Linked DNA regions of Homo sapiens: region 1 is linked to region 2. Evidence: fine-mapped expression QTL. A gene starts in region 2. The other region holds a variant in brackets. All regions are shown on one strand. Distances are from middle to middle. Region 1 has its middle 21 kb from the start of C7orf25. Region 2 holds the start of C7orf25 (chromosome 7 open reading frame 25).

What was found.
Region 1: its variant is fine-mapped to the expression of C7orf25 in testis (GTEx, PIP above 0.99).

What each region holds. Positions count from the first base shown.
Region 1 is chr7:42,883,635-42,899,048 of GRCh38, reverse strand. No RefSeq gene overlaps it. Among named protein-coding and RNA genes, the nearest start is that of C7orf25, 21 kb to the left of the region's middle. RefSeq lists enhancers at 10,485-10,534, 10,130-10,673, 14,475-15,277 and a silencer at 10,615-10,664. The variant G/C (reference allele first, on the strand shown) is at 7,345.
Region 2 is chr7:42,903,515-42,918,928 of GRCh38, reverse strand. It overlaps C7orf25 (chromosome 7 open reading frame 25), which reads left to right and starts at 6,859. Exons shown (of 2, transcript NM_001099858.2): 1 at 6,859-7,014; 2 at 8,008-9,656. The coding sequence starts at 8,029. The coding sequence ends at 9,294. PSMA2 (proteasome 20S subunit alpha 2) reads left to right here. Exons shown (of 8, transcript NM_002787.5): 7 at 1,094-1,151; 8 at 1,239-2,068. The coding sequence ends at 1,355. It also overlaps the pseudogene LOC105375252. RefSeq lists enhancers at 5,057-5,116, 6,636-7,332, 7,333-8,030 and a silencer at 7,028-7,287.

The DNA.
Region 1 (15,414 bases), 20 kb after region 2:
AAAAAAAAAAAAAAAAGAATAGTCTCTAATCTCATCCAAGTTGCTACAAATGTTAATTTATTCCTTTTTTATGGCTGCATAGTATTGCATTGTGTATATATATATATATATGTGTATATATATATATATGTGTGTATATATATATATATACCACAGTTTCTTTATCCACTTGTTGATTGATGGGCATTTGGGTTGGTTCCATGATTTTGCAATTGGGAATTGTGCTGCTATAAACATGCACGTGCATGTGCAAGTATCTTTTTTGAATAATGACTTATTTTCCTCTGGGTAGATACCTAGTAGTGGGATTGCTGGATCAAATGGTAGTTCTACTTTTAGTTCTTTAAAGAATCTCCACACTGTTTTCCATAGTATCTGTACTAGTTTACATTCCTACTAGCAGTGTAGAAGTGTTCCCTGATCACCACATCCATGCCAATATCTACTGTTTTTTAATTTTTTTATTATGCCCATTCTTGCAGGAATAAAGTGGTATACATTGTGGTTTTGATTTGCATTTCCCTGATCATTAGCAATGTTGAGCATTTTTTCATGTGTTTGTTGGCCATTTGTATATCTTCTTTTGGAAATTGTCCTATTCATGTTCTTAGCCCACTTTTTGATGGGATTTTTTGTTTTTTTTCTTACTGATTTGTTTGAGTTTGTTGTAGATTCCTGATATTAGTTCTTTATCAGATGTATAGATTCTGAAGATTTTCTCCCACTCTGTGGCTTGTCTGTTTACTCTGCTGACTGTTCCCTTTGCTGTGCAAAAGCTCTTTAGTTTAATTAGGTTCTAGCTATTTATCCTTGTTTTTATTGCATTTGCTTTTGGCTTCTTGGTCATGAAATCCTTGCCTAAGCCAATGTCTAGAAAGGGTTTTCCAATGTTATTTTCTAGAAATTTTATAGTTTCAGGTCTTAGGTTTAAGTCCTTAATCCATCTTGAGTTGATTTTTGTATAAGGTGAGAGATGAGGATCCAGTTTCGTTCTCATACATGTGGGTACCTGATTATGCCGGCACCATTTGTTGAAAAGGATGTCCTTTCCCCACTTCATATTTCTGTTTTGCTTTGTCAGAGATCAGTTGGCTGTAAGTATTTGGGTTTATTTCTGGGTTCTCTATTCTGTTCCATTGGCCTATGTGCCTATTTTTATACCAGTACCCTGGTGTTTTGGTGACTATGGCCTTATAGTATAGTTTGAAATCCCATAGTGTGATGTCTCCAGATTTGTTCTTTTTGCTTAATCTTGCTTTGGCTATGCAGGCTGTTTTTCGGTTCTATATGAATTTTAGAATTGTTTTTTCTAATTCTGTTTGAAAGGATAGTGGTATTCTGATGGAGATTGGATTGAATTTGTAGATTGCTTTTGGCAGTATGGTCATTTTCACAATATTGATTCTACCCATCTATGAGCAATGGGATGTGTTTGTATTTGTTTGTGTCATCTATGATTTCTTTCAGCAGTGTTTTGTAGTTTTCCTTGTAGAGGTCTTTTGACTTCTTGGTTAGGTATATTCCTAAGTATTTTATTTTTTTTTACAGCTATTGTAAAAGCGGTTGAGTTCTTGATTTGATTCTCTGCTTGGTCGCTGTTGGTGTTTGGAAGAGCTACTGATTTGTGTACATTAATCTTGTATCCAGAAACTTTGCTGAATTCTTTTATCAGTTCTAGGAGCTTTCTGGAGGAGTCCTTAGGGTTTTCAAGGGAAGTGATCATATCGTCAGCAAACAGTGACATTTGACTTCCTCTTTATCAGCTTGGATTCCCTTTATTTCTTTATCTTGTCTGATTGCTCTGGGTAGGACTTCCAGTACTGTGTTGAAGAGGAGTGGTGAAGTGGGCATCCTTGTCTTGTTCTATTTCTCAAAGGGAATGCTTTCAACATTTCCCCATTCAGTATTATGTTGGTTGTGGGTTAGTCATAGACGGCTTTTATTACATTAAAGTATGTCCCTTGTATGCCGATTTTGCTGATAGTTTTAATCATAAATGAATGTCGGATTTTGGCAAATGCTTTTTCTGCATCTACTAAGATGATCATGTGATTTTTGTTTTTAATCCTTTGTATGTGGTGTATCACATTTATTGACTTGTGTATGTTAAACCATCCCTTTATCCCTGGTATGAAACCCACTTGATCATGGTAGATTATCTTTTTGACATATTGGTGGATTCAGTTAGATAGTATTTTGTTAAGGATTTTAGCATCTAAGCATCTATGTTCATCAAGGATATTGGTCTGTAGTTTTCTTTTTTGGTTATGTCCTTTCCTGTTTTTGGTATTAGGCTGATGCTGGCTTCACAGAATGAATTAGGGTATGTTTCTTCTTTCTCTATCTTGTGGAATAGTGTCAAAAGGATTGGTACCAATTCTTCTTTGAATATCTGGTAGAATTCTGCTGTGAATCTGTCTGGTCCTGGACTTTTTTTTGTTGATAATTTTTAAATTACCACTTTAATCTCACTGCTTATTGGTCTGTTCAGGGTATCTAATTCTTCCTGATTTAAGCTACGGTATTTTTCCGGGAATTTACCCATCTCTTCTAGATTTTCTAGTTTATGTGCATAAAGGTGTTCATAGTAGCCTTGAATGATCTTTTGTATTTCAGTTGTAATATCTTCTGTTTCATTTCTTAGTGAGGTTATTTGGATTTTCTCTCTTCTTTTCTTAGTTAATCTTGCTAATGGTTTGTCAGTTTTATTTATCTTTTCAAAGAACCAGCTTTTTGCTTCATTTATCTTTTGTATTTGTTTGTTTGTTTGTTTGAATTTCAGTTAGTTGAGGTCTGATCTTGGTTCTTTCCTTTCTTCTGCCGGGTTTGGGTTTGGTTTGTTGTTGTTTCTCTAGTTCCTTGAGGTATTACCTTAGGATGTCAGTTTGTACTCTTTCAGTCTTTTTGGTGTAGGTGTTTAGGGCTATTAACTTGCCTCTGAGCACCACCTTTGCTGTATCCCAGAGGCTTTGGTAGGTTGTGTCATTATTGTCGTGCAGTTCAAAGAATTTTTACATTTCTATCTTGATTTTGTTTTTGACCCAGTGCTTATTCAGGAGCAGGTTATTTGATTTCCATGTATTTGCATGGGTTTGGAGGTTCCTTTTGGGGTTGATTTCCAGTTTTATTCCACTGTGGTTTGAGAGAGTGCTTGATATAATTTCAATTTTCTTAATTTATTGAGGCTCATTTCATGGCCTATCATATGGTCTATCTTGGAGAAAGTTGCATGTGCTGTTGAATAGAATGTGTATTCTGTGGTAGTTGGATGAAATGTTCTGTATATACATGTTAAGTCCATTTGTTCCAAGGTATAGTTTAAATCCATTGTTTGTTTTTTGACTTTCTGTCTTCATGACCTGTCCAGTGCTGTCAGTGGAACATTGAAGTCTCCCACTATTATTTTGTTTCTATCTCATTTCTTAAGACCATTAGTAATTGTTTTATAAATTTGGGAGCTCCAGCGTTAGGTGCATATATGTTTAGGATTGTGATATTTTCCTGATGGAGAAGGTCTTTTACCATTATATGTTGTCCCTCTTTGTCTCTTTTAACTGCTGTTGCTTTAAAGTTTGTTTTATGTGATATAAGAATAGCTACCCCTGTTCACTTTTGGTGTCCATTTGCATGAAATGCCTTTCCCCATGCCTTTACTTTATGTGAGTCCTTATGTGTTAGATGAGTCTCCTGAAGGCAGCAGATGGTTGGTGAGTTCTTATCCATTCTGCTGTTTTGTATCTTTTAAGTAGAGCATTTAGGCCATTTACATTCAATGTTAGTACTGAAATGTGAGGTATTGTTGCTTTCATCATGCCCTTTTTGCCTGTGTACTTTGGTTTTTGTATGTTGTTTGTACTTTTTAACTTGTATTTTTGTTTTATAGGTCCTGTGTAATTTATGCTTTAAAGAGGTTCTGTTTGGATGTGCTGCCAGGATTTGTTTCAAGATTTAGAGCTCCTTTTAGCAGTTCTTGTAGTGGTGGCATGGTAATGGCAAATTCTCTCAGCATTTGTTTGTTTGACAATGACTGTATCTTTCCTTCATATATGATGCTTTAGTTTTGCTGGATACAAAATTCTTGGTTGATAATTGTTTTGTTTGAGGAGGCTGAAGATAAGGCCCCCAATCCCTTCTAGATTGTAGGGTTTCTTCTGAGAAATCTGCTGTTAATCTGGTAGGTTTTCCTTTATAGGTTACCTGGTGCTTCTGTCTCACAGCTCTTAAGATTCTTTCCTTCGTCTTAACTTTGAATAACCTGATGACAATGTTCCTCGGTGAAGATCTTTTTGTGATGAATTTCCCAGGTGTTCTTGCTCTTATTTGGCTGTCTAGATCTCTCACAATGCAGGGGAAGTTTTCCTCAATTCTTCCCCCAAATATGTTTTCCATGCTTTTAGAATTCTCTTCTTTCTCAGGTACACCGATTATTCTTAAGTTTGGTTGTTTAACATAGTCCCAGACTTCTTGGAGGCTTTGTTCATATTTTCTTATTCTTTTTTCTTTGTCTTTGTTGGATTGTGATATTGTATTTCTTTATTCTACTTGTTCAATTATATTGCTGAGACTTTCCAGAGCATTTCACATTTCTAAAAGTGTGGCCAGAGTTTCCTGAGTCTTTGATTGTTTTTTCTTTAAGCTACCTATTCCCATGAATATTTCTTCCTCTACTTTTTGTATCATTTTTTGGATTCCTTGCATTGGGTTTCACCTTTCTCTGGTCCCTCCCTGAATAGCTTAATAACTAACCTCCTGAATTCTTTCTCAGGTAAATCAGGGATTTCTTCTTGGTCTGGATCCATTGCTGGTGAACTACGGTGATTTTTTTGGGGGTATTGAAGAGCCTTGTTTTGTCATATTACCTGGGTGGTTTTCTGGTTCCTTCTCACTTGGGTTTCCTCTGTCAGAGGGAAGGTCTAGGGCTAAAGGCTGTTATTCAAATTATTTTGTTTCACGGGGTGTTCCCTTGATGTAGTACTCACCTCCTTTTCTTATGGATGTGGCTTACTGTGAGCGAAACTGCAGTGATTGTTGTCTCTCTTCTGGGTCTAGCCACCCAGTGAGTCTGCCTGGCTCCAGACTGGCACTGGGGGTTGTCTGCACAGAGTCCTGTGATGAGAACCATCTATCAGTCTCTCACCCGTGGATACCAGCACCTGTTCTGGTGGAGTTGGCAAAGAGTGCAATTGACTCCTTGAGGGTCCTTAGCTTTGGTGGTTTAGTGCTCTATTTTTGTGCTGGTTGGCCTTCTGCCAGGAGGTGGTGCTTTCCAGAAAGCGTTAGCTGTATGTAGTATTGTGGAGAGGGACCAGCGGTGGGTGTGGCCCTAGATCTCCCAAGATTATATGCCCTTTGTCTTCTGCTACCAGGGTGGGTAGGGAAGAACCATCAGGTGGGGGTGGGGCTAGGGGTGTCTGAGCTCAGACTCTCCTTGGGCCTGTCTTGCTGCAGCTGCTGTGGAGCTGTGTACCTAGGAGGATTATGGCTGCCTCTGCTGAGTCATGCAGGTTGTCAGGGAAGTGGGGGAAAGCCAGCAATGGCAGGCCTTTGCCGGCTCCCATGGAAACTGAAGGGCCAGTCTCACTCCCACCGTGCACCCCCCAACATCCTGAGTCCATGCACCCCCCTAACATCCTGAGTCCATTTCCAGGTGAAGGCAAGACTGGCTTGAAAATTTGCCCGAGGCTATCTGCCTCCCAGCTGTGAGAGAAAAGGACTTTAGTTCTTCCTGGCCTGTGAATTCTACATGCCCAATTTGTGCCCTCCCACTGAGTTCTGGCCAGGAGGCTTCTCCCCCATTCAAACTGTTACAAAGTTCGGGTAGAGAATTCCTTCTCCCTGTGGAGGTTTACCCCCCTGTTCCTCTGGCCAACCTCCCGATGGATCGCTGTGGTGCCAGGCAGGAATGGGCTGCCTGGGGACCCAGAGAGCTCCCAGGGCCTTTCTGCTGCTTCCTCTACCCCTGCACTTTGCTCAGCTCTCTAACCTGACTCAGCTCCAGGTAAAGTCAGAAACTTCTCCTGCAAACAGATCTTCAGCTTCTCCAGTGAGGATATGTATTTGGGAGAGGAGGGTCACCCTTTCCCACTTCCACAGTTGGGGCACTCACAGTATTTGGGGTGTCTCCCCCGGCTGCAGGAGCAGCCTACTTCCTTCAGAGGGTCTGTGGGTCCTCTTGGGATTGCTGGTTTTTACTTGCAGTTGATCTGGAGCTAAAATTCACAGCGCAAGCCTCCGCATGCTGCTCTGTCCAGAGCTGCAATCTAGTCCTTGGAGTTATTATATTTTAAATATGTCTCTTGTTTTATCGCACAGGTTTGAGTTTTGCTATGTGATCAAATTTGAAAATCATGATATTTAATTGGTCAGTTAAGTCCATATATGGCTTCAGGTTTCATTTTGAATGAAATCCACTGCAATTCACCTCTTGGTGCCTCAGCATCTTATTCAAAATTAAGGCAGTTGTGGTTGAGTGCTGGAGATTTCTCAAGAGTAAGGGGAGAGAGGGATCATAGTGGTGATGTTCGGAGATGCAGGGTGAGAGATTGTGGTGAAAACTGGAGGGGCTTAGTAGGAAAGATTTCAGGGAGTAGGTGGTCATCTCCCCAGGGAGCCACACGATTGACTGACATGGGGCTGGTGTCTCCTGGGAAAGGCAATAATCTTCATTCATTTTAGTAACCTGTATTATGAGTTCCCTTTAGGTATGGGAGTGTGGAGGTAGCAGAGAGTAAGAAGTATAGCAGGATCAGGTAGACAGTGAGTTCAGGAAGAAAAATAATAAATGTGCGTTTTCTGCTTTTGGAGAGGCAGTCTGTGAGTATCACTGGGGGGAGATTTTAGTGTCCAGAGTGAAGCCATGTCTGGCACAGGGAGCAAAGTCATCTCCAACGCTGAGGTCTTGAGTTGGGGCAGTGTCCTCCAGGAGGTGAGACTGAGATGTCTCAATGGGTAGGCACCTGAGTTGGTGCGGGCCTCAGCATTTGTCATAACTGGTTGAAACAATGATCTACTACTGGAGGGTTTGGGTGTCCAGTTGTAAACCAATGAAAGCACCCAAACTGATAGTAATAAGACCAACAATCAAAGAAATGGTGTGCAGCTGCACCTGACAGGGTTTTGTTTTGGGTGGACATTTAGGTTCAAATGGGTTTCATATAAGATGAGCAGCTGCCAGGCCTGTGGGACAATATATGGTTAATGAGTCCCAGGAGAGTCTATGTCCTTGATCTGACCTACAGACCTTAAGGGATGGGGACAAGATAAAAAAATTGTTAAAAAAAAGTAGGTTAAGGCCAGGGGCAAACTAGAGAACTTTAGTTTATTTGTGGTATTGAAGTTTGAAAA[G/C]GAGTTGTTTAAACCATCATGATGTCTCTTATTGAGACCAGTCATTTGGGACCTGTCATGGACATGAAAGTTCTATTGAATGTTCCTCAGGAGCCCAGCATGATGTGTTCTAAGAAGTGAATTGTGTGCCTTGGTTACTGTTAGTAACAGCCATGACTCTGAAGGGAATAAGGCATGGCTAGCACGGCCTTGCATTGTGGCCTCAACTCTAAGTGGAGAAGTATGATTCTAATTTATGTTTTGGGTGAGTGCGAAGTAAGAGATTCCCAGAGATTTTCTTTTTCTTTTTTTTTTTTTTATCCTTGAGGGGCCAATTTTTCAGTAATGGCCTAATAGTTTATAATAAACATGAAGACAGGACCAGTTGTTGACCAGGGTATCCAGTGCTAAGATGACCACCTGGAGTTTTGGCCACGTGCGTTGTATTTGGGCCCCATCCTTTATTAGGGACATCCTGGCTAAGGAATGGAAAGCAGCACATTCCACTAGGCTCCACCATGCACAGGGGCTGGCAGTGCCATTCACATAGTCTATGAACTCCCTTTACTGGTCACTCAGTTAATCCACAGGGCTTCCTAGTAGTCAAGGGGTTTAGGGGAGGGATGTCATCCTCCAGCACCCTGGCGTCTGGCAAGGGGCTTAGAACAGGGGAAGCTATACCCTCCTGTGGGTAGAATATACCAGAGGACCCAGGTTTGTTCCCATCTGTCTTAGGGAGCCTCAGTAGCTGTGTTGAGCTTGTGGGGTCTGTTTCCATGGCCCAAAGCATAATGGGCAGCTGGGTATAGAGGGTCACAGGCTCAGGGTCTGGGAGAGCCTCTATTTCTGGGACAGCCCAGTAAGTGGGGGCCAGTCATCTATTGTATTAATGCTGTATAGCATGAGGCCAACAGGGGCAATATCTCGTATCAGAAATCCTGGGGCAACTGATAGCTATCCTAAATATCCAGAGATTGCAGGAGGCATTTGAAAAGGTTGAGAAGACTCTACAGTAAAGGCTTTTTTTTTTTTTAAGAAGTCACTTACAGGAGTGTCTGTAGACTTTAATTTAGAAGTAAAATTTATAAATGAGGAATATGTTGCCACCAAAACCCAAAAGTACTAAGAAATATTGGTCTCGAATGTCATCAATGTATGTATTAAGTGAGTCTCCTTGGCTGAGAATGTCCTGGATGTACTCTCATACCAGTGCTCCTGGAGAAGGTGGATGTCGTTAAGATTAATTAAAGATTGCATGTGATGACACAGCTGCAGAGGTCTGAAAAGGTGTACTGTGTTCTTTTAGAGGAGGAGGCGAACTGCAGTGAAGACGCTATTGAAACAGCACGTTAGCCAAATCCACAAGAGCAAAATATTTACCAGTTGTTGATTGAACGGAATCAGCAATTTTAATAATATTAGGTATTGGATATAGGGGCCCTAATGAAAGGGCTGTTAAATGGGGAAGTGGGAATAATCACGCCTTTATTAATAGGTTTTTTAGAATTGGTTTTAATCCATTTCAACTTACTTTGGGCCATATTAACTATATTAACTGGGGGTACAAGGGGTTCCATTTTATTAAGTCAATTTGTAAGTGCCAAAGACTTACTTTAATTTTAATTTGTTATTTATTGTGTCAGAGCATCTCTGCCTAATATAGAATATCTTACAGCAATGGATATATAACTATGGGAAATTTAGGCCATGCTACAAATGAATATGCAAGGCATATTCATTTACAAAATATTATATTCAGTTACCTGCTCAAGATTACATGGGCAGAGTGTTTAAGTTTAGTGGAATTCCCCAGGTATAAATATAATTTGAGCCCCAATATTAAGTCCATGCATTTTTGTTAGTGCATTTTAACAAATTGTTAAAGTTAAATTAGAACTGACCTTGTAGAAGCACAAAGCCAGTACGTGTCCTTTTTAATCTTTTTGTTATGTAAATTCTTTGATATATAAATTGCTATATGCATTATGAACTTCTAACTATATCAAAAGATGCAAATATATCATATACACCATTTATCAACATATATTTATGTTAAAATATTATATATAACTTTTATTTAATTACCTTTTTCCCCCTCTGTATCTAGGGGTTTGTTTATAAATCAGTAAGTGATCTAGGGCTAGCATGTTTGCTAGACCTGGCAGCTGCTAAGTATTTAAAGTTTAAAGTTCATCTCTTTTTTTTTTTTTCTTGGACTTGTAATAGCATAAAGCAACAGTCTCTCTCTCTCTCTCTCTCTCTCTCTCTCTCTCTCTCTCTCTCCCTCCCTCTCCCTCTTCCTCTTTTCTTTCTTTTTTATTTTAGGCTTTAGTTGCTTGAAGGCATTCTTAGTCTCTGCCTCTGGTTGATAAGAGGAAAAGAGGGAGGAGGGAAGGGCACAGTGTCTCTAGGCAGCCAGCTCTCTACAACTTCCGTGATTGCAAGATCATCGGTCCCCTTTTTCCTTCCTTTTTTTGTTTTTTTTTTCTTTTAAGTATAATCTTTAGAACGGCTTGTATTTCTTGGTGGCTAAAATAAAATTTTTTCTTCCTTCATCTCTCTGGATGTTTACCTGACATGCTCCTGGTGGTAGGAGTAGCCTCCTGGTGTTCTGTCCTTACAGAATGTTACCCGAAAAAATTGGAGGGTGACCTCTGTGTCTGCTGGCCTTGCAGGCAGCGGCTTCCCTTTCCATGGTGACCCACCGGAGCTCTGGAGGTGGTGGGGAGCGAGGAGCGACAGCAGCAGGAACCGAACAGGGCGGCGCCTGCCTGGCAGCGTCACTCTTGCGGGGCCTGTGGGACGCAGGTGAAGTTACTCCCATTAGGGTTAGGGTTAGGCCATATGATCCTTTCACCCTGGCTCCGCTTCACGAGCACAGTGAAGCCCAGTGTGTCGCATCACCCTCTCTGACTGTGACTAAGGAGAAATCGCTGCTTCCCAAGAGCCTGCTGGCGGGTTCTCGGGAAGTAGCGCGCAGCCGTGCCCTTTGCCATGGACAGGCCCGCCCACCACCCAGGCCCCAGGTCACGCAACAGCGCACCCAGCTCCAGGGACAACGCATCCTCCAATGGAGGCCGGCGACAGAGGGTCCCCACAGTCCCAGGAGGGGGTCTGATTCTGCAAAGGGAACACATCCTCCTACCACTGGGACCTGCCCTCCGCGCCGCAGGCAAGGAGCCGGCTACAGCCGCTACAATTCCGGAGAGTCCCGGAGGCGACTCGGACGACAGCAGGACCTAGTAGCGCGCAGCGACGAGCAGCGAGATCCAGCGCCTGTAAGCAGCGCGCGGCCCCAGACCTGCTGGGCCAGCTGATACAGCAAGGTAGCAAGCCCTCTGCGGGGGACAGACACCGGGATGGTGTCCAAGCCGCGACTGCAATCCTGCAGACTAGGCTAATTGTTTGGAATGAAACTTTATCAGTTTAGCCCGGCAATTACTCTCCTCAACAGCTGAGAGGCCAGGATAAAAGAGCATCAGCATGGGATCTACCTGCTTGGGGCCCTTTGGGGCGGCGTCACACTCAGGGATTAGATTTCAGGCACTGCTTCAGTGACACAACCGCAGTGTGAAAGTTTAAGCGTTTTTGGTACTTACAGATCCTGGAGGGAGCGCGGGCGCGCGCGCGCGCACACACACACACACACACACACACACACACACACACACACCACACACCAAGGAGTACAGGCAGAGAGAGAGAGAGAGAGAGAGAGAGAGAGAGAGAGAAGGGACCCGTAGACCAATACCTTTATTGGGTTCAGAGTGTTATCCAAACAGGTTTAATTGTTGAATTTAAAGCAAGCAGGCACTGGTTCCAGGAGGTCCCCCTGACTGAGAGGCGGTCACGTTAAGTTTGCAGGCAAATGTCTGAATGGTTCCTTGAAATGAAGCAGTATCTCTGGCCACCAACTGGAGCCATTCCAGTGGGGAATAGTATTAGAAACGGTGTCAAGGCTGACTGAGCCCTGCTTCTGGTATGAGAAAGTTAAAACATATTTTAAGATGGATGCCAAGGCAACATAAAATTATAAGCTCTCACCACATGTTTATACCCAGTTCTGGCATTAAAAAATGCTTCATTTTTTTCAAAAAGAGTTATAAAAAACTTTTGCCATGTGTTCTGTTTTCTTAGTTTTTCTGTTCTGTTTTTTGCTTTTGATAATTGGAAATGTTTGAACTTTTGTATTAGTACTGACGTTTTTATAATACCCATTCTTCCTTCTTTCCTTTAGATAATATTGACTGGGTCTCTACTGTAAGCAAGAAGAATATAATTTGTTTTGCAAACTCCTCTTTCCTTCCTTTCTCTGCCATTCAATTTTAATGATTAGAATAATGCATATTCTCTTTCTTTACTTGCACTCTGTGCACCTAAATATATTTAAGCTTCTGCTTTTTTTTTTTGGTAGCTTGAAATGATGTCATTTGTTTCCCAACTTTTGTAAGTAAATCATTGAGCTAATTATGCTTTTCCCTCTCTTTCTTTTTTTAGGTTGTGCTTTTTTCTGACTTTGTCAGAGAACATGTTTCTATATCATCCTTTGATTCTTATCTTACCTTTGGTTTAGTCTTAGATCTTCAGTTAAATATATTAAACACTCACTATTAATCTTGTTTCACCAGTTTTCCCAGGTGTCAGGTTTCTTGAAAAAAGCTCATGGGTCAGCATCCCCTGAGTTCCAGCATGTTCAAAACTGTTTCTCCATAGCTTGGATATGTGAAGGAATCTTGCTTGGTTATAGAAGCCTCACTTCACACTTTCCTTGCTTTCTTGTAAATGTTCCTCCATTTTGTTCTCTTTGACTCATTTTACTTTTTAAAAAATTGTGCTATTTTAAAATACCAGTCATAAAGCCAGCTAGCTATTACAGAGATATGTGTACTTTATCACAAATTTAATTTAATTTCTTATTATTATATATATATTTTTTTGAGACAGGGTCTCACTCCGTGGCCCAGGCTGTAGTTCATTGGTGCTGGTTCCAGGAGGGCTCACTGCAGCCTATAACTCCCAGACTCAAGTGAAACCCCCACCTCAGCCTCCTGAGTAGCTAGGACTACAGGCATGTGCCACCACACCCAGCTAATTTTTTGTATTTGTAGTAGAGAAGGGGTTTCACCATGTTGCCCAGGCTGGTCTCTAATTCCTGGGCTCAAGTGATCTGCCTGCCTTGGACTCCCAAAGTGCTGGGATTACAGGCATGAGCCACCGTGTCTGGCTCACAAATTTTATATAAAATGACTTCCTATTACCTTTAGATGAGAAGGAAAAAACACATAGCCTGTGGTTCCCTCAAAACTCTAACATGTAACTTTTAGTGGGGAAAATAAGGTACTTTTGCTAGTTATCCACAAGGGGGAAGACTGATTCCATTTCTTCTGGAAGGTATCCATTGGGCCATCATTACTGATCATTTATTTTTATTTTTATAGATTTAGAGAGTACATGTGCAGTTGTGTTACATGGATATATTGTGTAGTGGTGAAGTCTGGGCTTTAGTGTTCTATAAATTACAATAATTTGTTAAGATATCTTTTGCGGTCTATTTTTCATACATGTGCTGTCTCTTTACCATATGTAGATTCAGAACTTTTTTTTTTCCTCAGGAAAGTTTTCTTGATTATAGTTTTACAATTAGTCCTAGTCTATTATTTGGTTTTTCTTCTTCAGGTTCTCTAATGATACTTGTGTTCGATTGTGCTTGTATCCTGTTCTTTCTGCTTCCATTTTCTTGGTTTTTATTATTTCTATCTGTTATGTCTCTTACTGTATTTTTTGTCTTCCTGTTCTCCCTTGGCTACCTAGTAATGCAGTTTTTGTTTCTAAGATTTGTCTTTTTCTCAAGTTCTTAATTATGTCAGTTTTTATTTTTATTTTTATTATTTTTTTAAGACAGAGTCTCGCACTGTCACCTGGGCTAGAGTGCAATGGCACGATCTTGGCTCACTGCAACCTCCACCTCCTGGGTTCAAGTGATTCTCCTGCCTCAGCCTCCCAAGTAGCTGGGATTACAGGCACCTGCCACCACACCTGGCTAATTTTTTGTATTTTTAATAGAGATGGGGTTTCACCATGTTGGCCAGGCTGGTCTCGACTCCTGACCTCAGGTGATCCACCCGCCTCAGCCTCTCAAAGTGCTAGGATTACAGGCGTGAGCCACTGTGCCCGCCTTTTTTGTTTTTTTGAGACGAGTGCAATGGCTCCATTTCAGCTCACTGCAACCTCAACCTCCCGTGTTCAAATGATTCTCCTGCCTCAGCCTCACGAGTAGCTGAGATTAGAGGTGTGCGTCACCACACCTGGCTAATTTTTGTATTTTTGGTAGAGACGGGGTTTATCTATGTTGGCCAGGCTAGTCTCAAACTCCTGACCTCAAGTGATCCTCCCACCTTGGCTTCCCAAAGTGCTGGGATTACAGGCATGAACCACCATGCTCGGCTTGTCAGTTCTTATTTCACTGTTTGATCATCTGTTTTCTGAGTTGTGATTTTTGTATTTGTGGTATTATTTAATATCTTCAATTGCTTATTTAATTATTCCTAATAAGACCCCCTCCCAGATATAACCAGTATTCTGACCTCTAGTACCCTAGATAAGTCTTATCTATTTTGAGCTTCCCATAAATGGAGAATACATTATGTATTCTTTTGTTTCTGATTATTTTCCTCAATATTTTATCTGGAAGATTCATTAATATCATTGCATGCAGTAGTAGTTCATAATCTTTCATTTTTCTGTAGTACTCTATTGTATGACTACAAACTCTAATTCAAGTATTGATAGAAATTTGAGTTGTAGTCAATCTTTGGCTATTATGAATAAAGTTTTTATGAGTATCATTTTACATCTCTGTTATTTTACATGTCTTTTGTGGAACATATGCACTCATTCCTAGAGGTGGAATTGTTGATCATGGGGTAGATGCATGTTTAGTTTTATAAAATACTCTGAAACATTTTTCTAAAGCATTGTACATATTGACACTATTTTGAATTTGAAGTGTTATCTCATTGTAATTTTTAATTTGTAATTCTCTGCTGACTAATGATATTGAGTATCTTTCCTGTTTATTTTGGATTTTAATATCCTTTTTAGTGAAGTTCAAATGTTTTACTTATCATTTAACTGGGTTGTCTGTGTCTCCTTATTAATTTGTAGAAATTCTGTATATATGCTAGATATAAGTCGTTTGTAAGAGATATATATATATAGTATATATTGTATATGTAGTATATATTTTATATATATATACATATATTGCAAGTATCTTCTCTCCATTCTGTAGTTTTCTTTTTCACTGTCTTGTATCTTTTCATGAGCAAGTGTTCTGTTAATGATGTCCAATTCTTTTACTTTTTTTAATTTAAATTTTAATTTTTTTAAGACAGGGTCTCACTTCATCCCCTAGGCTGGAGTGCAGTGGTGCAATCATGACTCAATGCAGCCTCATAGTCTTCCTGGCTTAAGCAGTCCTTCCACCTGAGCCTCCTGAGTAGCTGGTGATGGCAGCAGTGGCCTGCCTGAAGCAGCCACTGCCAAGAATCTAGCTGCAGTGGGGGAGGTGTGGCTGGGCTGCATGCTCCACAGAGCCAGCGGAAGCCAAGAACGCACCCTCCTGGGTACAGCTGCAGCCGCCCAGCCGTGGCTGCGGACCCGGGCCTCCCTGTGCTCTTGGGGGTTGGGAGCAGGCAGGAGCCCTGCCATCCTGGACACAGCTGCAGCCATTCAGCCACAGTTACAGACCTGGGCCTCCCTGTGCTCTGGGGGGCCCAGGAAGGCCTCCCTGCCCCCACAGACTCAGAGGCATCTGCTCCCACTGCCTGGCTTCTCCCCACTCCTGGCACCTGCTCCGATCTCGGAGTGAGGTTGGGGCCAAGACCGGGTGCTGTCACACATGGCAAGGTGTGTGCACACTTGGGGCAGCACTGACACATGCCAGCCGTCTGGTACCTTGGCCCCCTGTGGACTTTGGGTGCTGATGAGCATGGGAGGGAGACTGAGGGGGTGTGAGGGCAACTCAGCGCTGGCCTGCAGGTGCCCCTCAGCATGAACAGCCTAGGCGCTATGAATGGCAGCAGGAGGCAG
Region 2 (15,414 bases):
TCACTTGAACCTGGGAGGCGGAGTTTGCAGTGAGCCAAGATTGCACCACTGCACTCCAGCCTGGGCGACAGAGCAAGATTCTGTCTTGAGGGAAAAAAAAGCCCCTAAGGCATGATGCCACTGAAGGCCAAGTCAGCCACGGGCCATATGTGGCCAGAACAGGTGAGCAGCATCAGTCTCATTGCTATGGAGGTGGTGAACCCAGTGATTGGGCTGGTGGGCTGAGGGTCATCCTTGTCTTTTCTCCTCTGGTACAGCGCCCGGGGTTCCTCCAGGCTTCACCCTAACACGGGCTGAGCAGAGAAAAAGGAAAAGGTGGCACCGAGATTAGGAAGGAGCTAGGGAGGGGCTGGGGAGTCTGGGAAGGGTGAGCAACAGTTGACAATGGAGGGAGGAAAGTAGGGGATGGGGAGAACCGAAGAAACGACCCAGCCACTCTTCGCACCGTCCACACTGGTATCGGCAGGAAGTGACATGTTATGTTTTAACTTATAAGAAAAAGATTTTAGCAAAGTTCTGATTTTTCTGTGTTTTAAAAATTATAATAATGCCACCACATCCTGATTGTTAAAATATTTATACTTAAGAAGTTTCCTGGCTGGGTGTGTTGGCTCGTGCCTGTAATCCCAGCACTTTGGTAGGTCAAGGCAGGCGGATCACGAGGTCAGGAGATCGAGACCATCCTGGCTGACACAGTGAAACCCATCTCTACTAAAAATACAAAGAAATTAGCTGGGCGTAGTGGGCGCCTGTAGTCCCAGCTACTTGGGAGGCTGAGGCAGGAGAATGGCATGAGCCCGGGAGGTGGAGCTTGCAGTAAGCCAAGATAACTGTGTCTCAAAAAAAAAAAAAAAAGTTTCCTAAACTAAACTCATTTTAGGGTCATACCGTTCATGATGTTGGGAATTGAGCACCAGATATTGTCAGTTTTTTTAATCTGGAGACAGCTACAAGGAGGTGATTAAAAGAATGTGTAATTTAGTATTTTTAAGATGTTTAGAGTTTTAAAAACTTACGTTGTTGCTGTCATTGTATTTAAATAGTTATAAAGAATATAAACAATGATATAAGTAATTTTTTTTAAATTCTTCAGATATAATGAAGATCTGGAACTTGAAGATGCCATTCATACAGCCATCTTAACCCTAAAGGTTAGCTCAGTATTCAACAACTGGATTTATAATGATTTCATGATTAACTGCTTAGAAAATTGACCTTTTTTCCTCCCTCCTCAATAGGAAAGCTTTGAAGGGCAAATGACAGAGGATAACATAGAAGTTGGAATCTGCAATGAAGCTGGATTTAGGAGGCTTACTCCAACTGAAGTTAAGGATTACTTGGCTGCCATAGCATAACAATGAAGTGACTGAAAAATCCAGAATTTCAGATAATCTATCTACTTAAACATGTTTAAAGTATGTTTTGTTTTGCAGACTTTTTGCATACTTATTTCTACATGGTTTAAATCGACTGTTTTTAAAATGACACTTATAAATCCTAATAAACTGTTAAACCCACCTTCCAGCCTTTTAGGAGTTGCTAAAATTTTAACAGTTATTTCCTGCTTTTTATCACAGTTGATTTCTGAAGACTACATTGCCAAGCAGAATGATGAAATGACTTTTTCGTTGTCAGGCAATTTTGGTTAAGTCAAATCTTAATGCCCTCTTCGCTATCAGATGTTGCCTGTGTTTCCATAAAGCAAAATGCTGATTTTGGTAAAAAACATGACTGCTTCTAGAGCTGGGAGGATCTGCAGACTTTCACGGATTCATGGAACAAGAAAAGAAGCATAGGTACTTTTAGGTGCCATTAGGTATTGATCAGTGAAATCCTAGGGTGCTCTATGAGATTGTACTAGGCCTATGAAGAGTGGTAAGCCAAATAGGTCTCCATGGGAGATACATTATGTAAATAAATAAACAATGGTTTGCTGGTTCCTGTTGGTGTCTCCACAAGTAGGTAAACATGTTTAAAGGAACCCGGGTTCTTAGATTTTGTTAGACTTTTTAAACTCAAGGATGAGCATAAGTGCTTGAAATAAAATGCTAATACTTAAGTGTCAAAACTATGGCTTAAGGCTCTTGTTAATTCATTAATGTAATCTCAGTATAATAAATAGCTTCACTATAATGAAAGTTATAATTAAGTATCTGCACTCATATGAAGGCAGTGCTTAGGTTTTTTTTTTTAAATTTTTTTTAAGGCAACTTAGGATAAAATCATTAATTTGGTTTACAGAACATAAGGAGAGTTTATAAGCATAATCATTCTTACCAACGTGAAAGTATAGTGGGCAATTCCATGATTTAAATGGAGCTCAGAAGATTCTAAGATTTAGTTAAGGGCAAAAGAACCTTATTTTGGAGATTTTTCTCAGGGTCCCCAGTTCTGTTCCCTACCATCACTATAACACCCATATCTTGTTTTAGGTGGCAAAAGCATTAAGGAGATGAAAGATGGTAACTTTGGCTTCCTGTTTCAAGATGTTTATCTTGGCCTTGTCTAATAATCTCTCTTATGGGCTCTTGATATATTTTGACTTTGGCACACTAGAAAGCGGACATAGTAGCAAAAAGGTCTTTGAAGTCAAGTCTCAGCTATCTCACTTACTGGCTGAGTGACTATGTGAGGTAATTATCTCAGGGTTGGTTGGTTGGTTTGTTTTTTGAGACAATCTCTCTGTCACCCAGGGGGAGTGCAGTGGCGTGATCTTGGCTCACTGCAACCTCATCCTCCCAGGCTCAGGTGATCAATCCTTTTACCTCAGCCTCCCGAGTGGCTGGGACTACAGGCGCGTACCACCATGTTTGGTTTATTTTTGTATTTTTAGTAGAGACGGGGTTTCACCATGTTGCCCAGACTGGTCTCCAACTCCTCAGCTCAAGCGGTTCACCCGCCTTGGCCTCCCAAAGTGCTGAGATTATAGGCATGAGCCGCTCTGCCCGGCCATATCTCAGGGTTTCCTAAGGACTAAATTTGATAACACAAGTTAAAGCCTGGTGTGGTTAATAGTTACTCTGTTAACTGCCGTTGATTTTGTTTAGTCCTTCTATAATGTCCAGTATCAAAAGAGCAAAGCAATGTCAAAATTCTACAAATCAAAGAAGGGAAAATTAAAGGCATGTTAATATTTCAGAGGTAAGGAAAACTCATGTAGGTTTTTATTGTGTGCTAACAAAATTAGGCCTAAAGAATAAAGGGAGGAAAAATCAGCTGAACCAGATTTGATCCAGGTTCTGTTTTCCACCTCCTGCCCCCATTAAATGCAAAGCCCAGTTCCAGTTCAAGCTGCCTACAACACTTCTCCCTTTGTTCTGTTTATTCTTTCCACGGGCCTTAAAATTAAGTTGTTCCTTTTTGTCCCAGTTCTTAGAGTTCTTTGATGTAGCAACCCACTGCATTCCTAAACATTCCAAAACTCTTGAACCATTTCCAGCCTGTGGATTTTAGCTTAAGTATCATAATGTTTCTAATGTTCAGAGCCTCTGCCTTTTGGTTCATTTTGTATCTTCTAACCCTTAAAACATTTTAACTCCATTTGTTCTACTTCCTCCCAGTTCTACTGAACCATGAATTTAAATTTGCAAAGCAATTAATAGCAGTGAAACATGGAGATGCTTAAAATTCACATACACAGGCAATAAAGAATACTAATACAGAGCCTTATAATTATCAAGTGCTGATAACACTCAAGCATCCCTGAAGGAAAAAAAAAAAAACCCAACCTTGAGATAATTACCTTGCACAGTCTCTCAGGCATCAAGTAGGTGATAAGTGAACATTGAAGGGTTTTCATCTATTGCTCAGTTTTCTTCATAGAATGAAACTGCCAACTCTTAGTACTTACCTCACCTTTTTTTCAGGAGTCTACTCACCCATGTAGGCAAGCTCTCTGAGCCCCCCATTGCAAAGAAGAGCAAGTTGATGTTCAGCGAATTGCCCAAGAACATATAGGAGTTGAGAGTTCCCTTGGATTAGAATCCTGATTTCCTGAAAACCAGTCCTGGTGGTTCTGTATGAAAGTCACATTGCTTCACACAGTTCCTTCAATTTAGAGCTCCTCCCTCCACCCTGTTCTCAAGAAACTTATGAAACTAGCAATATCTGGCTGCCAATTATCTGATAACTTCCTAAGCATGAGCATATTTAAAAAGTTAAGTAAAATGTGAGTGCTACTCCCTGAAAGCCATCACTTTTGACTTTTTTAGGTGTTTCATGAGGTACTTGCCTCCGTATTTCAAAATAGTAGGATTATATGCCTTTTTCTTGGATTCCCGGAGTTGAGCTGCCAGACTTCCCATTGTGCAAGATGAGAATTTAGAATCCTCATATCACACTGACTTCCTTCTCCCTACCTCAATTAAATCATGTTGAAGATTTTTCTTATGACTAAGTGTACTACAATTTACATTTCCGGAACAACTTTCCTGGCAGTGATAACCGCTTTTTTTTCTTTTTTTTTTTTTTTTGAGACAGTCTCACTCTGTCACCCAGGCTGGAGTGAGGTGGCACAAATCAGTTCACTGTAGCCTTGACGTGGGGTCAAACGATCCTCCCACCCCAGCCATTGCAGTAGGTGTGAATACAGATGTCAGCCACCATGGCCAGCTAGTTTTTTTACTTTTTGTGGAGACAGGGATCTCACTACATTGTCCAGGCTGGATTTGAACTCCTGTGCTCAAGTGATTCTCCCGCCCTGGACTCACAAAGTGTTGGGATTACAAATAAGCCATGGCGGCGCCCAGCCCACTTGGTTACTTTGTTTTCTGCGTAGCTGTCACCAATCCTTGCCAGATTCCCCCAACAGAAATTTAACACCCTCTGCTTAATATTTTCCTCATCAGTCAGATATCAGGCACTCTGTATCAGTTCTCTTCCCCACACCTCAGAGAAGTTTCTCTTAGAACCCTCTGTCTTCCTGTTCCAATCCAGGCTAGGTGCTTGTTTGAAACTATCTTTATTCTCCTTGCTTTCTCTCTGAATTGGCTGGGTTTAAAAACTCTAAGAAATAAATTATCTCCACATTTTGAAAGCATTACTCCCTTCTAAATTCCAGTGTTGCTGATAGGAAGCCTAATACTATTGCGTATGTGATGCCAAGTCCTTTGTAAGTTTTCCCCTCTGCAGCTCTTGGTTTTTCTCTTATCTGCTGTGTTCTGAAACTTCACAACCATGTTCCTTTGTGTGGGTTTCTTAATAGTCATTGTGGTGAGCACTCAGTGGGCCCTTGCACTGTGAAAAACGTTTCTGTTTGCTAAATTTTCTATTAAGTTTTTGAAAAATTTTCTCTTCATTTTGTTTTTGTTTCTAAACTCCTGTTAATTGGATACTGGATCCTTTTGTTTTTGCTCCATTTTTCATCTATTTCTACTTTCTAAATTTTTCCAACTCATTGATGTTTTGAAATTTGGGATATGATTTTTACTACAGAAGAACCATTTCCTGTGCTCTGCTGTCTCCTTAAAAAAAGAAATCCTCTTGTTTCATAGCTGAAATATCTTTTATTTGAAGATGCTAGTTATAGAATACTTTTTGAGACCATTTTGTTCTGTTTTCCATTTCCTTCAAATAACAAAAACGTTGGGAAATGCTGTGTTCGTGAGGCTCACACTAGGGGATGCTGAATGTTGGTATTGCCGAGCCATTTCTCTAGGGTCTTTTGTCTACTCATTTCTTCAGAGAAAAATAGGGTTATGGGGAGATAGTGGTAGGGAGCGGTAGAGGGGTGCCTGCATTATGGGAGGGGCAGAGAAGGGGGCTGCTAGCATTGCACTATTCAGTAGGAAAACATCATGGCACCTCTCATCCTTTGTTAGGCTTTGTGTCTGGAATCCCTCTGATGCCCTGTCTTTAGCATCTTAAACTAGTCTTCTGCCTGAACAATTTACTGCCCTCCCTTCTACCTTCAAGGCACCTGAAGCTTTCTGGGGTTCTGCTTTGTGAATCAGTGGCTAAATATCCCCTTCTACAAGCAGTTTGCTCAGTTCTCCTGACACCATCTGCAAAGAGGGTGCTTGGGTTCAGGTAACCTCCCTATGGCTCACTTATCTGTAAAGCATACTTAATATCTCTACCTTTTAGGTTGTTTAAAGGAGTGAACAATGTGTAAAACACTTAGAACAATGTCTGTCACGCTGTAAGGACTGAATAAGTTATTGCTCTTGTCCTCCAAAAATGTGTTGGTATAACCGGTCTGCAGTCATCTCTTCTCTTGTTCTTTTTGCCTTTGTTTGTTCCCTTTGTCATTGCTTTACTGTTATTTGGAGAAGGAGCATTGCTTTACTGTTAAGTTTGGAGAAGGAGCAGGATACACAGGATTAATTATAACTGGAAGTCCTCTTTAATATTTTAAATTAGCTTTACTTTCTTACAGCCCTAATCTTTCTGGGTGACTCTGGACACTCTACTACAGTAATATGAATATGGCAGCCCCTCGGAAGCCATGCAATCATTTCTTCTCTTCAGAAGGACAGCACACTTTCTTTGGAGGGCCCAGGACAATGCAGTGGAAAGTGCTTTGGCTTGGAGGCAGAAGTCCCAGAGGCAGTACTTCTCAGCTGTCACCTCTGACAAGCTTCTCCAGCGTTTCTTCTGTTAAAATGAGCCCCCAAAATGCCTACGACCCGGTTGCGATCGAGTGGCCGACGCCCCCAGTGGGAGTGAGGCCCAGCACGCGAGCTCGGTCCCTCTTCCTGGAGCCAGGTGGGTGCGCGCCTTCAGGCTCACCCGGCGGCGCAAGCGGGAGAAGCCAGGTGCCCTCAATAAACATGGCCGCCACGCCAGCGTCAACCCGGCTCGGGAGGCCGCGCTGCCGCTTGGGAATCGCAGGTTTGGCGTCACCCGGCCCGGAACCACGTGATGCAGGAGGTGCCCGAGGCGGCGGGGCTCGCGCGGGTGGAGCCGCCTCGGCGTTCGAGCGGGGTGGGGGCTGCCCGGTTGAGATTTCCCGGCGGGTCCCGGCCTCTGCGTGCACGCGCCTGCGTGCTCGCGCTCGCGGTTCTGGCGCTGCCGGTGAGGAGCCGGGGAGCGAGGCGGGGAGGCTGGGAGCGGGGCGCCTCTTCTGAGGCCAGAGGGGGCTGGGCAGGGCCGGCCCGGCGGGAAGGGGGTCGGCCGCGCGCTATCAGCGCCTGGTCCCTGAGCCGCGGCGCTGGCGGTGGGGGCTTTTCGGCCCCGGCCCCTCCTGGCAGGGCCCGGCTGTGCAGGTGGCCGGGCAGGGCCGAGGGCCCCGCAGCCCACCGAGAAGGCCCCGCCGGCCTCTGGCCCGCCCACCCGGCGACCTGCGCTGGGGCCGCTTGCACGGCCGCCGCGGGTTGCAGCCTTGGAGTTTAGTTTCATCTTCGGATTTTCCTTCAGAGTCGGAGTGGGAGTGGGACGCAAGTTGGTGGTCTTCTTCGGTCTTTTAAAATAGTCTGGGTTGACGTCAAATGCAGAAATGAGGCAGTGTTGATTTTTTTTGGCGTAAGTACCCCAAGCCTCGGGGGAAATCATGAGGCAGCCGGTTGAAGGAGACCAACTCGGGAAGGAGGAAAAGGTTAGGGAGGCTGAAGTGCTCAGTTTAGGACAGACACTTGCTTTGGACAGTTTGCTAACTAGCCAGTCTGTGTGTATTTTTGTTTTCGGCATTTTTGTCGCCTTTATTAAAATTTCTCAGCAGTTAAACAGGCCGCTGATAGACATAAGGGAATTATTTATATAGCAGATTGCCCAACTCTTGCATTGTATCCTAACCTAGGACCATGCTGTGTCCCCATGGCTTTCAAGCTGAAGAAATGAAGGTCTAAAGTGTGTCAGACGTACCTAAAGAAGAGTTCAAAAGTGTAGCTGCCATCCTTTCCTTAGCTATCAGAGGAAGCAGTCACTCCAGAATGAGACATACACAAGCCCGGGTTCATAGACTCACCCTCCATAAGCTGTGTTGCTAGATTGAAGTTTTTAATCACCAGTGAAGAATTGATTGTCATAATTTTAGGAGACTACTGAAGTTTGCCTTGTTTCTTTCCCTAGGAAAGGAATAATGCTGACAGCATGTCTGCACATTCCATGCTCTGTGAACGAATCGCCATAGCCAAGGAACTGATCAAGAGAGCAGAATCACTTTCTAGATCAAGAAAAGGTGGCATAGAAGGTGGTGCAAAGCTGTGCAGCAAATTGAAGGCAGAATTAAAATTCTTGCAGAAAGTAGAAGCTGGGAAAGTAGCTATTAAAGAGTCTCATTTACAGAGCACTAACCTAACACACCTGAGAGCCATTGTGGAATCAGCAGAAAACCTGGAAGAAGTTGTTAGTGTTCTTCATGTCTTTGGTTATACAGATACCTTAGGAGAAAAGCAAACCCTTGTGGTAGATGTAGTTGCAAATGGTGGTCATACTTGGGTGAAAGCCATTGGCCGGAAGGCTGAAGCTCTTCATAACATCTGGCTGGGCAGGGGCCAATATGGTGACAAAAGCATCATTGAGCAGGCTGAAGACTTCCTCCAGGCCAGTCACCAGCAGCCAGTGCAGTATAGCAACCCTCACATCATCTTTGCATTTTACAACAGTGTCTCCAGCCCCATGGCAGAGAAGCTGAAAGAAATGGGCATATCTGTGAGAGGAGACATAGTAGCAGTCAACGCTCTGTTAGATCACCCTGAAGAGCTTCAACCAAGTGAGAGTGAATCAGATGATGAGGGCCCTGAACTTTTGCAGGTGACCAGAGTTGACCGAGAAAATATACTAGCAAGTGTTGCGTTTCCAACAGAAATTAAGGTCGATGTGTGCAAAAGAGTAAATCTGGACATTACTACTTTAATCACATATGTATCTGCCCTCAGCTATGGAGGCTGCCACTTTATTTTCAAAGAGAAAGTGCTCACAGAACAAGCAGAGCAAGAGAGGAAAGAGCAGGTTCTACCTCAGCTGGAGGCCTTTATGAAGGACAAGGAGTTGTTTGCTTGTGAATCTGCTGTCAAGGACTTTCAGTCTATTTTAGATACCTTAGGAGGACCTGGGGAGAGAGAGAGGGCCACTGTGTTAATTAAGCGAATTAATGTGGTACCAGACCAGCCTTCTGAGCGTGCCTTGAGACTAGTGGCCAGTTCAAAAATTAATAGCCGCTCATTAACAATTTTTGGGACGGGAGACACCCTAAAAGCCATCACAATGACTGCTAATAGTGGTTTTGTCAGAGCTGCAAACAACCAGGGTGTTAAATTTAGTGTGTTTATCCATCAGCCCAGAGCACTTACTGAGAGTAAAGAGGCTCTAGCCACCCCCTTACCAAAAGACTACACAACTGACAGTGAACACTAAAGATACCCTTTAAATATTTTTGTGGAAGTAAGTTATTTATACCAAAGGCTGGGTCTTCCCATCTAAACTGGTGGGAAAAAAGGTCTATAGTAAAAGTAAAACTGAGAACTCTTAAACCAGTAGAGTTTCTTTGTCTCTCATCTAAAGTATATAACCTCCCAAAGTAGAAAAAGCACAAGAGAGAAGCTTATCTATCAAACTGTCTGCATTAGTGCAATTAAGAACCGAAATACGTCTATATAAAGCTTTCAGCTGTATTGTAATACTTTGATTCGATAGGGCTACAACTCCCCTACTGCTAACCACATTTCATGGAATATGGCTACATTGCATCTTGCATTAAATATCTGGAGAAAATTCAAGCCTGTTTTTCATTGTATTGCTTTATATGGTTTAGGCTGGGAGGTAGTCGTTGGTAATCAATTTTAGATTCTAAGGTTAACCATTAATGAAAAACTTATTTGCTGTATGTCAGGTGCAGTCTGATAGGTGTTTTTACAAAAAGTACATAATACAGAAGAAATGAGAAAGTGAATTATGGTTATTTGAGTGCCATGAACCCATTGGTAGACCTTTGTGAAAAGAAAGCCAACAATCTTACTACTATAAGATAAAACCAGGACACTTAAGGTAAAATACTAATTTGAATGAATTGAAAAAGGATTATGTAAAAGATTTTAAAAATTCAATACAGAAAGCCCCCATATTATAAGTATTTGAACAATAAATACTATTTTCATGTTTCATTTGCAAGTGGCAAGTGACAACTGCATTACCTTACTTTCATGAGATGGTGACAGAATATTCCATGCCAATTCCATGACACAAGTTGTAGTTAAAAATACACTTCTATGGCTACATTGCGCTAGATACTTTATCAGTTTTCAATAAAGCAAAACTAGCAAAGTCGGTATGTATTCACCACATTTAAAAATTTGGAATTTGAGTCCTGGAGCTTAAATATTAACTCATGCTAAGTGTAGGAGCTGGTATTAAAACTTGATGTTTCTAGCCACAGTCTGATCTCTTTCTACCATGCCAAATGTCGTATTTGTTGAGAAGAGAATCTCAATTTACAGCCACAGTGTTTGTTGGGGTGGAATTTGGTTATTGGCATTCATGAACACCCTGAAATGAATGCAAAATTAAGTGTATGGGGGTGGTTCTCTGGGGAGAGATTGCTTTACTAAGTCAGAATACATTTTCTAGTAGAAAGGCTGTGATTTGCTTCCAGTTTAGTGTAGAGTGGTATATGTCTAGTGTTAGAAATGGAATTTAAGCTTTTTGAGCATCTATTAAGGTCATGTAGTACTTGATACTATTAAGTACCAAGCATTATAATAGTTTGGTGTGAAAAGATGAATGTTTGCTCTAAGGAATTCTTAAGTCTAAAGTGGAAGTAAACAACTGAAGTGCAATTAAATGTACTAAATTCTCTAGGATATGTTGAAAATACTATGGGGACAGAGTAAAGGAGTACTTGTTATGGGGCCAGGAAGTCAGAGAGGAAGTGTTGTTTGAGGGTTTGGGGTGTGAAATTTCACAAGATGTGTGAGAAAGGGTACTCAAAAGTACATGGAGGAATGGGATTGGAAAAGTACCAGAACTGTGACTATGAGGACCTGTTCAGGGACCAGGCTCAAGTGGACAGTTTATAAAACAAGATGGAGCTAGAAAAAAAAGTCAAAGTTCTCTAAAGAGTTTGGCATTAGAGAGCCATTGGTGATTTTTAAGAAAGTGTGGCTTATGATCAGGTCTCTTAAGGAAACCACAAAAATCTGTAGTGTGGATAAAAATTGAAAGAAAGTTTGGACTATAATGACCTTAGCTAGAGCAGGAATGATGGACTGTAGAGTCATGGATACATGTTGGATTTGTTTGAGGCAGAATTGACATATTAATGTACTCATTCGTTTAATAAGCATTGAGTGACAGCCATGTGTCAGACACAGTACAAAGGGCATGGCATATAAAAGACTTGTTTTAAAGGAGCAGAAAGAAGGTAGATTTCTATCCCTGCTCCCTATGAATCAATCAATACCTAAGAACTTGGGATCTTTGCCAACTAGAAAGTGGACAGGCCACAGCACTCTTTAGGAAACTGCTTTGTGAAGTGACCACAGCTGTGCCCTGCCAAAGACCATGATGTTTTTTCAAGCATTCCAGTGATTGCAACTCCTAACAATGTAATAAATAATGCAAGCAGTACATATGCTCAAGTAGTAGGGCACTGGATCCTGGAATGTAAGAAATAGCACCTTCCCTAGAGACCACACACATGATCTACACTGTCAAGGTCTATTCCAGCTGGCCAAAACATTCCTTTCATAAAGGTAAAATATTAGACAATAAAGGCCGGATGTGGTGGTTCACACCTGTAATCCCAAAACTTTGGGAGGCTGAGGGGCAGATCACCTGAGGTCAGGAGTTCAATACCAGCCTGGCTGGCATGGTGAAACCCTGTCTGTACTAAAAATACAAAAATTAGCCAGGCATGTTGGTGGGTATCTGTAACCCCAGCTACTCAGGAGGCCGAGGCAGGAGAATCACTTGAACCTGGGAGGTGGAGGTTGCAGTGAGCCGAGATCACGTCATTGCACTTCAGCCTGGGTAACAAGAGCGAGGCTACATCTCAAAAAAAAAAAGAGACAATAAAAACAATGAGGGAAGTTATAAAAGGAATGTTCAATTAAATATCAGTTAACTGGTAAGTCAAAGGAATCACAGAGCTATAGCTATAAAGCAAACAAATGTCCAAATAGTTCTAAAGTGTGAAGATACGTAATAAACTGTCGTTATGCCTGGGAATTGGAAGTGGTTGAGGAAAGTAAAAGCATGCTAAAAATCCTCATCTTACTTAGAGTCAACAGACACTTTGAAATTTTGCTATTGAAAAATAGAGCTATTTAGTTTTGAGTGTCAAACAGGAAATATAACTGATAGTATAAATTAAACCAAGCTGAATAGCTGAATAAATTCCAAACAAAAGGTGAGGATGGAGAATAAATGTAGTCCATATAGAAAAAGACAGGTCAGGCTGGGCGCTGTGGCTTACACCTGTAATCCCAGCACTTTGGGAGGCTGAGGCAGGGTGGATCCCTTGAGCCCAGGACTTCAAGACCAGCCTGGGCAACATGGCAAAACCCCGCTCTACAAAAAATACAAAAATTAGCCAGGCATGGTAGTGCACTCCTGCAGTCCCAGGTACCAGGGAGGCTGAGGCAGGAGGCTCACCTGAGCCTGGGAGGTCAAGGCTGCAGTGAGTTTTGGTTGTACCACTGTACTCCAGCCTGGGCAACAGAGTGAGACCCTGTCTCAAAAAGAAAAAGATAAAAGAATTGTGAATGAGGCATAAAAAGCAGAAAGCATAAAATAAGAGTGCTAGCTGCAAGCACAGGAAGGATATAAAACAGCTTTGGAGGGAGATATATAGATAATTGTGATATACTGGGAAATCTCATTGGAACAGATGACTGTTTCAGGAAATGTAAATTAGAATTGAAAAATAGCCTAAATAAGCAATAACCATTTAAAAAATTGTTAAAGAAGTTAAGTAATTTCTCCAAAATATGTGCAGATGCAGTTAACTTTATTAGACAAGTTTTTTCCTACTTTTAAATACCGAATAATCCCCGTGCTCTAAAAGGTAATATGGAGCATAACCCCGTAAGTGGGGTTGAAATGTAACATGGTAAGATGTGTTGTTCCTCTTACTCCCTGTCCTCTGCCCCAAGAGGAGAACTTTGGCCTGCTCTCCTGTTTGAGAACAGGGCCTGGGTATGGGACTGAAGCCCATGGGGTGTTTCTTGACTCATGTAATAACAGGCTGACTGTCTCAGGTCATCCTTGTATTGGAAATGTTTTCAGACTCATTTTACAGAACATGAGTATAACTCTGATACTGAAACCTGACAAGATTGCATAAAAAAGAAGCTGGAACAAAATTTCAGTTTAAAAAGATACATAAACATCCCAGACAAAATGGCACTGCAGACAAAATGGATTCAGGCAGAGAACATTTCACGCTGTGGGAATCTTTTTGTTGTTGTTGTTTTGTTTTTTGAGATGGAGTTTCACTCTTGTTGCCCTGGCTGGAGTGCAGTGGCACAATCTTGGCTCACTGCATCTTCCACCTCATGGGTTCAATTGATTCTCCTGCCTCAGCCTCCTGAGTAGCTGTGATTACAGGCATGCACCACCACGGCCAGCTAATTTTGTATTTTTAGTAGAGACGGGAGTTCGCCATGTTGGCCAGGCTGCTCTTGAACTCCTGACTTCAGGTGATCCACCCACCTCGGCCTCCCAAAGTGCTGGGATTACAGGTGTGAGTCACTGTGCCCGGGAATCTTGTTCCCAAGAGGAAGAAAGGCAAGGATGAGTTCCCAACCGTTATAGTAGGGATGTGGGGATTAACCTTCATGCTGGGATAGAATCAGAGGCATGAGGCCTGCTTGAGGTAAAGAGGTAACCCCAAGACCCCCACTGAGTGAACCAGAACCTTAAGGCTGTAATGCCCATGAAAGAGGATCTTGTAAACTTTGCCCAGGGACACAGCAAGGGTTTGACTCCAGTGGTTCTGGGGGCGGGTGTGGGGTGTGGGGTGGGGGTGGTGGGGCGGGGGGAAGAACTCTGAAAGAAATCAAAGCCCAGACTGTGTCCCACATAGAGTTCAAGTCATTTAACAGCATCATGGGGGAAACCCAGAGATGTGAAATTAGTATAAAAATTGGCCGCTGGCAAGTGCTATCTCTCAGACACCTGAGAACAACATACGCAACCTCATTCTGGACTTAGGGACATTTTAGTTTCCCGGCTACGTAGATGTCTATAGAAAAACTGAGCTTTGATTGGATGCGCTTACAGTGAGAAATAGTCAAAACGTAGAAGGAAACCTTCCACCACCAGCAAATCAGCAACACATAAAGAGGAGCATTAGTTCTTCAAGAACTTAAGATTATAACAAAATACATTAAAATAAAATATATGATATTATAGAATATATATGTAAAAATATATAATAGCAAAATATAAAAGAAAGTAAGTTTGGGATCTTCTAAGTGTTCCCTATCCTCTGAAAAAAAAACAAAAAACAAAAAGAAGTAGTAATTCAAAGTAGCAGAGGGAGGCTGCAACCAAACATTGCACACACAGCTCAGGTGGAGGATGTGGTGTATATGCGCAGCAAGTATGTTTCCTAATACTGAAGCCCAGAATTAGGCAGACATTAACCACTTGATTGCAGGTAATTCTGGGGCATGTGACAGGGAGAGCTTGTCCCAAAAGGGCTGCAGAGAACACCTCACCCTGTGGCAAACTTATTCACAAAAGGAAAAAGCGCAGAGATGAGCCAAGCCAAGCCTCCAGGCATTCGTCTGAAACTTGCAATCAAATACATTTCTCTATATTCCCAGGAGAGAAGGGCCAGGCATATGCTGGGGGATATAACGCCTCCACTTCCCTGCCATCATGCAAGTAAGAATGGGGAAAAAAGGCATTTCCCTCTTCACCTAAATAACAAATGATTAAAGGGGATAAAAAAAAAGGCATAGAAACTATAAGGGGCCAGGTGTGGTGGCTCACGCCTGTAATCCCAGCACTTTGGGAGGCCAAGGTGGGCAGATCACCTGAGGTCCCGAGTTCAAGACCAGCCTGGCTAACATGGTGAAACCCCGTCTACTAAAAATACAAAAATTAGCTGGGCATGGTGGCGTGCATCTGTCATCCCAGCTACTAGGGACACTAAGGCAGGAGAATTGCTTGAACGTGGGAGGTGGAGGTGACAGCTGAGATCATGCCATGGCACTCCAGCCTGGGCAACAGAGCAAGACTGTCTCAAAAAAAAAAGAAGAAGAAGAAAAGAAAAAAAAGGAAAGAGTACAAGCAAATAAAACTTCAGGAAATAGAAAAACTCACTAAAATTACAATCTCAGAAATAAAGTTTAAAATAGTAGGTGAGATAAACTAAAAGAATTCTGAAATGAATAGAATTTCCCAGGATTCAACAAATAAATTAAATGATGAAAAATATAAACAAGATGCTGAGACATGGAGAAAAAATGAGTCCACTCCATCAAAGGTTCTGGCAGACAACATGGACTGAGCACAAAGTCGGGTTCCCAT